2 separate regions of the Homo sapiens genome follow, and region 1 is linked to region 2. Evidence: fine-mapped expression QTL. A gene starts in region 2. The other region holds a variant in brackets. All regions are shown on one strand. Distances are between the middles of the regions.

What was found. PIP is the estimated chance that this variant, and not a neighbour inherited with it, causes the effect.
Region 1: its variant is the best candidate, but not a certain one, in a credible set for the expression of TBX15 in visceral fat (GTEx, PIP 0.54).

What each region holds. Positions count from the first base shown.
Region 1 is chr1:119,029,693-119,035,065 of GRCh38, reverse strand. WARS2 (tryptophanyl tRNA synthetase 2, mitochondrial) reads left to right here. Exons shown (of 6, transcript NM_015836.4): 5 at 853-971; 6 at 1,707-3,850. The coding sequence ends at 2,155. Among named protein-coding and RNA genes, the nearest start is that of WARS2-IT1, 15 kb to the left of the region's middle. The variant G/A (reference allele first, on the strand shown) is at 3,102.
Region 2 is chr1:118,986,062-118,991,434 of GRCh38, reverse strand. TBX15 (T-box transcription factor 15) reads left to right here and starts at 3,092. Exons shown (of 8, transcript NM_001330677.2): 1 at 3,092-3,844. The coding sequence starts at 3,640. RefSeq lists enhancers at 3,159-3,691, 3,692-4,225.

The sequences.
Region 1 (5,373 bases), 44 kb before region 2:
TGGTTTCACATCTTCATTTCTTCATAATATGAAATATTACAGATAAAATTCAAGTCTCCTTTGTTCTTTTCTTCAGATCTATTTCCTTTCCACCTTCTCTAGAAGCAGCTACAATTACAAATTTGGGGAGGAGCTTCCAGTATGTTTTTTTACTTATTATTACAGATATATTTCCATAGGCACTTGTAAAATTTACGTAAATGTCAGTGTATTTCATGTTTTCTCCAACTTGCTTTTTTCATCCCACATAGTTTTTGATAGCCATCTACATTGTACTTATAGATTTTAAGTTCTCTGCAACATATTAATTGTCCTGTGATTGCAATGTACTTGAAAATGAAGCTTACTCCAAAGAATATTGAATTACTCCCTATGTGACAGGGAGGAAAAACTCTTGCCTGAAGAACTTTCTGCTGCCTTTGATTTGAAGAGTGGGGTGGGGTGTCTTTCAAGTATGAGCTGTAGTTCTGAGGTAAAGAGCATCTGGTCAGGGCTGGGAATAATATGTGCTGACTGGGTGAGGGAATGAGGAGTAGTTTTAAAACACAATTGTGCCTAGAGCATATGCTATTTAAAATCCCATTCCTCCCTCCCAGCAAGATCCTGTCATGCTGGTGTTGATGGCTGTATTCCCCTGCTGTGGAAAAAACACAACTAGAGTAGAGAAACATCTCTTTGGCTTTTGTCTGATCCATAGATAAAGACTTAGGTCTAAACATTCCCTCTATAGTTGGTGAACATTTGTTGAATACCAACAGTGAAATATTCACAGGAAATGCAGCTGCTTGCAATATCATTTCTGTCTCTAAGAAAGAGCCTTGCTGTTGTTTTTCTGTCTGTCTTTTATTAAAGGTCCACACACGTTCCTGTTGGGGAGGATCAAGTCCAGCACATGGAACTAGTTCAGGATCTAGCACAAGGTTTCAACAAGAAGTATGGGGAGTTCTTTCCAGTGCCCGAGTCCATTCTCAGTAAGTAAGAAACTTATAATTGTTACATCAGGGTATATTCTAAAGAGAGGATTGGACAATAGATAGGCTTGGAACTTTCTTGGGACTAACCTCAGCTTTCTTGTAGACAGGCTTCAGGATCTGTAACTAGAGTCCTCATTGTTTTCTCTAGTGTAGGACTAGAAAGTAGACTACGTTGGATTCCTGAAAAAGATGTTGGATTATTGAAAAGGATAACTAAAAATATTTTAAAAGTATGGAAGAGACCAAAAATTTAAAATAATATTTATAAAGTAGTATATAATTTATGAAGTATGAACAGATGCTTCTTGACTTATAATTGGGTTACATCCTGATAAAGCCATTGTAAGTTGGAAACACTGTTAATCAAAAATGCATTTAACACACATAACCTACTGAACATCACAGCTTAGCCTAGCCCACCTTCAGCGTGCTCAGAACACTTACATTAGTCTATAATTGGGCAGAATCATCTAACACAAAGCCTATTTTATAATAAAGTATTGAATATCTCATGTAATTTATTGAATACTATACTGAAAGTGAAAAACAGAATGGTTGTGTGGGTATTTCAAGTACAGTTTCTACTGAATGGATATCACATTTGCACCACTGTAAAGTTGAAAAATCATAATTCAAACCATTGCAAGTTGGGAACTGTCTGTGTGTACATCTTGGTGATCTGTTTGTTTTGTTTTTGTTTTGGGTATGTGTGTGTTGGTGTTTTTAACCTAGCATCCATGAAGAAGGTAAAATCCCTACGTGATCCTTCTGCCAAAATGTCGAAATCAGACCCTGACAAACTGGCCACCGTCCGAATAACAGACAGCCCAGAGGAGATAGTGCAGAAATTCCGCAAGGCTGTGACAGACTTCACCTCGGAGGTCACCTATGACCCGGCTGGCCGCGCTGGCGTGTCCAACATAGTGGCGGTGCATGCCGCGGTGACGGGGCTCTCCGTGGAGGAAGTGGTGCGCCGCAGCGCGGGCATGAACACTGCTCGCTACAAGCTGGCCGTGGCAGATGCTGTGATTGAGAAGTTTGCCCCAATTAAGCGTGAAATTGAAAAACTGAAGCTGGACAAGGACCATTTAGAGAAGGTTTTACAAATTGGATCAGCAAAAGCCAAAGAATTAGCATACACTGTGTGCCAGGAGGTGAAGAAATTGGTGGGTTTTCTATAGGAAGTTTCAACGAATCACAGCAAGGCTTTTGTGCCTTGCACTCCATGCATTCTGATAACGGCAGCTTTCCTAAAAAGAAAAAGTTATAGTTTTGGGACATTTAATTTGGTATAGCTGATTATTGGCTTTATTTGATGAATATTGCTTTGTAGCTTTGAAATACGACAGTGTTCCAAATCCCATCAACAAAATGCTGTGAACAACAACAACAAAAAATAAATCAAGAAGGCATAGCTGTCTGAATCCCCAATTATTGAGGCACACTCCTTGGCCTGCAGAAATGTGATTGAAGTAAGGAGTAATTTGGGAAATGGAGTATCATTTGTGCTTCTCTCTGGAGTACTTACTGTAACAGATGCACACGTTATCTACTTCAACCCTTTTATAAAGCAATATATAGAGGTCTTAGATGTATAATCCTTGAGATGCCATTTGATCAGATGCCAATTTGTATTCAGAGCTCATAAAAACAAGTCCATTCTTATAGTTTGTTTGTCACTGAGACGGTGCCTGATTTAATATATTTAAGCTGCTTAACTTGTTTTCCAAGAGATAACACCAACTGTTCCAGCAATAATTTGTTTTTTAATTCAGAGATATGGGATATGATCTTCTAAGGAGGTTGCATTATTTTGACCTGATTTATTTATTGTACAAGAGCCCAAGTCCCTGAATTATATTCTTAATAAGTGCTTTCTTGCATTCATTTCAGTTTAGTCTCACCAACCCCCTATGAATTAGGAGAATTATTGTCATTTTACACATGAGGAAAGTGAGGCTGAGAGAATCCAATTAGCTTGTACGATATCACTCCATAAGAGAAGCAAATCTGAGAGTAAAACCCTTACCCCTTATTCTTAAGAATAGTGCTTGTTTATTCAGTACAAAAAAAATGCTGAAAGGCAGCGTTTTTTAGACTCTAAACATTCTGATTTTGAAGGTGGGT[G/A]TTGGAACGACTGATGATGTTTTTTATATCATCAATTCAGCCAATGGATGCGAACTTAAAATCTGGATTCACAGAACCGTGGTCACATTTCCCCATCAAAATCCCCAAGGCGGGTCCCAAGTTCTCTCCTCTACGCTCATTGCAGAAATACTTTGAAATAGGTTCTGCCAGTCTACAATAGCAGTGAAGACTGACAAATCAGATATTCCCAATGACTGACAGCTTCTCATCTTGCCTCTACCTCAGTTAAGTAATGTCACCCTGAAACCTAGCTTTTCTGCACTTCCATTTCTGACACCTGAAAATGAAAATGATAATCCTAACTTATACACCAAGACCTGTTAGCAAGATCGATTTTGTAACAGAAATTGCTTATAAGTTTTTTATCAGTAAGGACCATGATCACCATTTGTACATACATAACTAGGTTGTTGAGCAAAGCATTTTTGCTCATGTTTCTTAAGGAAGTAGAGTAGTCCTTGTGTCAGAACACATGTTAATCCACAAAACGCCCCATCCCAGATTCCAAATTAAAACATCGTTTTTAGGATTCTTGGAGCTAGCCTGGATCATGGGTAAAGGAAACATTTTGCCTTTTGTATCTTATACTGGAATGGGATGTCTGTAAGTCCTAGAACCTCTTTGAGCATATTTCTTACAAGCCTCTGTTTTTTCCCCTTTAAAGGAAACTTTGAAAGGATTGTGAATACTGGAAAATGACAAAACTAAAGGTAGATCTATCAAGCCAATTGTCTGTTTATCTGTTTGTGTGGTTTTTACCCCCTTGCAATACCTTTCCTCCAAAAAATTAAGGCACTATGGAAAGAATCTCAGAGGAGAAAAACAGATAACTTGTGATAACTTCCAGGGACCGAAGTCTATGCATTGGTGAGGGTGGACTTGTTTGCAACCTGTTGTTATTTTTTTTAAGTGACCCAACTGTTCAAGTCCAAACTTGGCCCATAATTATTAAGAGAATCTTATCCGGTTAATCAGTATTAATCAGGATTCTTCAGAGAAACAAAACCAATAGGATATATATCTATATATTAGAGAATTTATTATGGGGATTAGCTCACCCAATTATGAAGGCTGAGAAGTTCCATGATAGGCTATGTGCAAGCTGGACCCAAGAGAGATGATGGTGTGATACAGTCCAAGTCCTTAGGCTGGAGAACCAGGGGAACCAATGATGTAACTGTCAGTCCAAGGCTGAAGGCTTGAGAACCTGGGGGCCACTGTAAGTCCCAGAGTCTAAAGGCCTGAGAACCAGGAGCTGTGATGTCCTAGGGCAGGAGAGGTGAAGTTCCAGCTCAAGAAGACAGCAAATTTGCCCTTCCTCTGTCTTTTTCTTCTAGTCAGTCCCTCAACTGATTGGATGTCAGCCCACATCGATGAGGGCGTATCTCCTTTATTGAGTCTACTGATTCAAAGGCCAATCTCTTCCAGAAACACCCTCACACACGCGCTCAGAGTAATGCTTTACCAGCTATCTGGATATCCCTTAACTCAGTCAAGTTGACACATAAAATTATCCATCACGGCCGGGCACGGTGGCTCACGCCTGTAATCCCAGCACTTTGGGAGACCGAGGCGGGCGGATCACGAGGTCAGGAGATGGAGACCATCCTGGCTAACATGGTGAAAACCCCGTCTCTACTTAAAATACAAAAAAAAAAAATTAGCTGAGTGTGGTGGGGGGCGCCTGTAGTCCCAGCTACTAGGGAGGCTGAGGCAGAAGAATGGTGTGAACCCAGGAGGTGGAGCTTGCAGTGAGCCGAGATCAAACCACTACACCCCAGCCTGGGCAACAGAGCGAGACTCCGTCTCAAAAAAAAAAAAAAAAAATCCATCACACCCAGTGATCTCAGGAAGTTGATAAAAGAGCCAACAAGTATGGAATCTAGATCTATTTTCACATCCCTTCCACTTATTGTTTATAGGCCCTTCACAATCTTTCTAATGGAGATGACACATTGGAGAGAAACCTAATTTTTTTTTTTCTGTATGTTTTGTGGGAAGTTGAAATGGTGAAAAATATTTCAGGTGGTAATAATAATGGTCCTGTAACTGGTGCTCTGAAACCCTGCTTCAAACCGACTTTGACAGCTGGTCACTCAACACAGTGGGGGTGTCTTGCCCTTTGTAGGTGACCCATAAACATTTATCAAAAGTATGTGTCAAAAAATGGGCTAGAGATTTCTAATAAAGTGTGAATTTTTTTTTGCAAAAGCCCTACTGATGTACACCATCAAGATGCTTATCATAATAA
Region 2 (5,373 bases):
AGAGATAAGCTGGGGTAATGAGGAGAGACTTTTAAAGCCCGTTGATGTAATCAGTAGAAGGAAAATTTGTATCACACTTGCAGATTCTTACATGTAATCTCCCAAAGCCTCCCTCAACTGCACACGAGTGTACACCTAAGCACACATATTAAGCCATCCTGCTTACTCTTTCTCCAGATTTTCCTTCCCATCAGCAGTCACCCACCAAGGAGTGCATGCTTCTGGGAAAAACCTTACATTAACTCCTATAGAGTCACGGGAGTTTTCACTGCTCCTCCCATTTACTTAGAGGAAACCCCTTATTTTCAAGACTGTTAAAAACCATCCTGCTTTCATTTGGGTTCGGTTGGTTTTAGTGGCCTAACCTACAATTCCAGGATATGTGTGTCTGTGGAATGGGGGTGGGAGCAGCCTATGTGCAATCTGAAGGAGGGGTGTGGAAACTCTTCTGGCTGACTCCTGACTCTGCGGAGTGCAAGCTTCGGAGAGGATGCAGATGCATGCTGTTGAAACCATTGCTCATTCCTCTATGTATGCCTCTCAGATGCTGCGTCTTTGGACACACAGGAACAATCGGGCCTCTGGACTTGCAATTATGTTCCTAGATAACCAAAAAGTCCTCCTTTTTTTTTTTTTTTTCCTTTTTTTCTATTTTTGAGAAGACAGGTTCTCACTCTGTCACCGAGTCTGGAGTGTAGTGGTGCAATCTCGGCTCACTTCAGCCTGGACCTCCTGGGCTCAGGTGATCCTCCCCTGTCAGCCTCCTGAGTAGCTGGGACTACAGGCCCACACCACCACACCTGGCTAATTTTTGTATTTTTTGTAGAAATGGGGTTTCTCCATGTTGCCCAGGCTAAGTCCTCCTTTTTGAGAAAATTCCATGGTCTCAGAGAGGGTGAGGCATATGGTGTACCCGCTTCTCAGTCCAAACCAGGCCTGTGAGAAACTGTGAAAGGCAAAAGGCTGCCAGAGAGAGATGGGAGATACCGGCTATGGGGATGAGAAAAGAGCTGGGAAAGTCTAGAGGCCGGCCCCATTGCTACCCCACCAAGCTTGGTAGGGGCAGGCTCCAGCCGCAGGCGGAAAACGCCGGGCGACACCAGAGTTGGGAGGTGAGAGAGAGGCCCCAGCCGCTGGGGAAGGAAATTGCGGGTTCCCGTCTGCCTTGTCTCCAGCTTCTCTGCTGAAGCCCGGTAGCAGTGAATGCGCGCTGACTTTCAGCGACGACTCCTGGAAGCAACGCCAAATGCTGACTGAAGTGGGAGATCCTGCGCCTCTCCATCCGGGCTCCCCAAGTCCTCTGGGCAGAGCTGCAGGAGGCGGGGACCAGTACCCTGCTTCCAGCTCCCCAGAGTTCATGTTCGTGCTCCCTGGGGACCTCCAAGCCTGAGACACAGGCTCCGGGGAGGTCAGGCTTGGCTGAATCACACTCATCCGGTGGCTTTTCCATTGTTCTTTTTGCATTCGCCTGGGATGCTAGCTTCCTGACATCCTGGTTGGATCCTAATTTGGGGCGGGGGTGAAGGAAGGGGGCAAAAGTAGCCTCTTGTCCAAAGAGGCCCAAGGTGAATTCACAACACTGTGGTTGCCTTCAGCACCAGAACACTTCCAACTGTAATAATAAAGACTAGATTTCCCTGGGCCCCTCCGCAGTCCGGCAGAGAATTCGGCGTTTCAGAGGCCTGACAAGTCATCTTTTCTTGCCGCAAGGTGGGAGAGCTGATTCTCCCGGGCCTCGCGAAAACAACAACAAGAAATCTTAACAGGCTGTGGGCCCCCTAACCTAAACTTTCAGGTTTGGAGACTTCTAAGGGCCTGGCTGTCGTCACGACTGGCCTGCTTGGCCTCTCAGTCTGTCCCCCGCCCCCGGGACCCAGCTCTTTCCGGCTTCTTTGCAAAAGGATAGAACCGTCTCGACCAGGGCACTAGGACTGGAAGATCGGGCTGTGTCTAGGCCGCTGTCCGCGAAATCCGAGACGTTTTTTCAGCTTGGCTAGGACCGACTTCGCTGCCGGTTTGAGCTTTCTCTGCACTCGGGGGTCTCCTGCCGTCCTCGACCGGTGGCGTAACTTGGGAAGAGGTGTGGGAATTAAGAATGGCCAGGAGCGTTGGATTTTTTAATTCCTTAGAAATCCATGTTGAATGCAGTCCTTAGAGATCGCAAAAGGCAGGGGGCGGCCAGGGGGGAGATCAGCTGGCCGGGAAAGCCATGGTCTTGAGGTAACGGGATTTGCAGGGAATTTTGAAAAAGCTCCTTCTCTTCTGTTAAAGTTCCTAGCTGTTCTTGCCTGTCACCTCTCCATAGGTTCTCTGCAACAAGAGCCCGGAACAGGCGAAGCGCAGCCCAGCGTTCGGGCCGTAGGGAAAGAGAGTATTTGCGGCGTGAGGGGGCCCAGCTGGAATACGCCTGAGGAGCTCGCCCTAAACCCCGCGCTCCGCCGCCCGCCCCTTGCTCTCAAGGCGCCTGTGTCTCCTTCTCCACCAGGTAGAGCTGGAAGGAGGAAGCGGTCTTTGAATTTTCAGTTACAAGACCCTGGTTAGTAACAGGGCTTTCTGTTTGCTTGTTTGTTTGTTTCCTTTTGCCTTACCCAGATTTGCTTAGAAAACGTTCAGTAGGAACATTAAAACCTGTGTGGCGAAATCCAGGAGGAACCAGAATATTCTAAAGCACCTAGGGGCTGACGCGAAATTATCAGAATCGTTTTCTGGCATTTTGGACAGGTTAACATTTTGTCAGAGCCCCAAAATTCCAGATCTGCAACTAAAGTGACTCTGGACTTGCAGCGTCTATGAGACCAGCAGATCTGGAAGAAAAACGTATGGATTTGGGATTTGCAGGAGTTTGTAAAGGCGCAGATCAGACCTCAACTTTCAACTGTCCTACCTCCCTCTTGGAGTAACCCATGGGGAAACCGGGAAGCCAGGGGTTAAAGTCGGCCCAGGAGCATCCAGGGGACGACTGGCGCTGCGCTTTGGCCCGGGCCTCAGTCTCTCCCTTCCTCTCATTGGTTCGCGCTCTCGGAGTTTCTCTTGTTCCCTCCTCGCTATTGGTTGGGGGCTGGCTTTTTTCCCCCTCAGTCTTTTTCTTCCTCCCCCTCCCTCTCCCTCACCCCTCGGACAGGAGCGCACCGCCTGCCCCCTGTTCCTCGGGAAGGGAGGAATTTAGCGGAAAAAAAAGTTTCCCAGAAGTTTGGATCACAGGGAGGACGGGAAGGCAGAGAGGAAGAGAGAGAGAGGGGGAGGAGAGAAAAAGAGAGGGAGGGGAGAGAGAGAGAGAGAGAGAGAGGAGAGAGAATAATAATAATAACAAAAACAAGATGAAGTTCAGTGGACACAGTCTGTGAGCGCCTGCCCCGGTGGGTGGGAAGCAGGACTCGGGCGCTCATGCAGCGAGCGGGCGGCGCTCGGGGCGCTAGTTCCTAGCAGCTGGGCCAGCGTAGGGGCGCAGGTCGGATCCGGCAGAGGAGGGCGGAGGAGGACGCAGGGGGAGGGTGGAGAGACCCGCGAGCCGCAGTCTCAGCCTCGTCCGACGCGCCTCCGCCTCTCCCGGGCCGGGCCCGGTGGGCGCTCAGAGCTTGAGGGCGCCGGCTGCTCCCTCGGTAGCGGGGGCAAGCGGAGGCAGGGGTGTGGGCGGCTAAAATGAGTGAAAGGAGAAGATCTGCAGTCGCCCTGAGCTCGCGAGCACATGCCTTCTCCGTTGAAGCCTTGATCGGCTCAAATAAAAAACGGAAACTGCGAGACTGGGAGGAGAAGGGGCTGGACCTGTCTATGGAGGCGCTGAGCCCCGCGGGCCCACTCGGAGACACGGAGGACGCGGCGGCACACGGCCTGGAGCCTCACCCGGGTGAGTGCGTCGCAGCCGACCGCGGGAGGCGGGCGGAGAGGGGACGCCGAAGGGCCAGTCGCCGGTCGCGGGTGAGGAGCTAGGCCCTGCCATTGACGCCCTGCCTTGCCCCAACATAGGTTTCTGTTTCTTCGCGCAAATGCCCTGAGCCTCCCTAAATTCACCGGAACCAATTTTTGGGGCTGGACTGAGCCTTGCATTTTCGTCGCCAGCCTAAGCAAGGAGTCCTGTTTGTTTGCATTTCTTTTTCTTTTGGGTGGAGAGCGCAGCTTTCTGGGTGTCCGTGGATGAAGGGCTGCCGGTCCCTGGGATTGGGAGGGGCGCGGGCCGAAGGCAACGGCGGGAGCCGAGATCTAGGACTCGCTTCTGAGAACTCGGGAGGACTGGCGCGGCGTTCTCCAATCCAATACCTCAGTCTTCGGGGAATGACCAGTTGTCTCATTTAGCCTTCAACCTCGTCCTTGCCTTTCTCCCACCAACTTTTCGATGGTGGAACATAATTATATTTCTACTCCTTTGGCGTTTACGGAAACAAGAATGGATGTTAGACCCCTTACTCCTTGGGTCACTCTTCAGGGCCCACATCTCTGTGTATTTAGGGTGTGGGTACGATTGATTTGTGTCTCAGATCCTACAGTAACCCATGTATATTATGTGCACGGAACATGTAAAAAGCAGGGGGGATGTCATGTCTGTATTTTAACAGAACCCTAGGAGGGGAGAAGCCAACTTTAACGTTTTGTGTTAAGTGCCAAGATTTCAACTGTGCAAAAACAGCCCGGGGGAACAGCTGTTGTCGGAAGAATCTTGAGTGTGCGCGCGCGCACATACAACGCTCGCAACTTGGTTTAGCGGTTTCAGAAGCTTTCCAGCCCGGACTTCTAAAACCATGCTGGAAGGTGCTCCTGCTGAACAGCCAGAGCTGGGGAGTAGACCCCGCTTCACACGCTGACAAGCCCGGGGAGGGGGCAGCGGCCTGCACTGGGATAGAGACGGTCTGGGGCTCAGGAGCTTGGGGATCTCAGCCACAAAGCTGTCCAACTCAGAGGAGGGACAGCTGTCGCTTACATTTTCTCTTTAGGCAGTGACAGTTCAATTTCCATGCTCCCGAGGCTAATAATAATGCGATTAGCGGGTGACCTGCAGAGATAGAGTTTTATGAATTCTCCGTGTTTTTGTGGCCCGTTACGGTATTTGAGTTTAGTGCTGGGGAATTATTTTTATTAGTCGATGAAAAGAAAATTAAAAGGAGATTTATTTCGACCGTCCAAGCCTTTTCCTGTATTTGAATGCAAGTGCTTGTCCACGCGGACCCCTGCGTGGGCATTCCAGAAAGGCACCCAGGGCTACTGTGTGTTTCCCTTCGCTGGCCAGACCCTATTTCCTCAGCTCATTTATCTATTGTCAAAATCTCGCGTGGGCCTTCATACAGTTAGAAGTTCTTGCAGGGGTTATGACGCCTTAGAATTTGTAAGGTTCTTTTATTTTCCCCACGGCGGAAAAAACAGAAGTTGTTTAGCTGCGCGTGG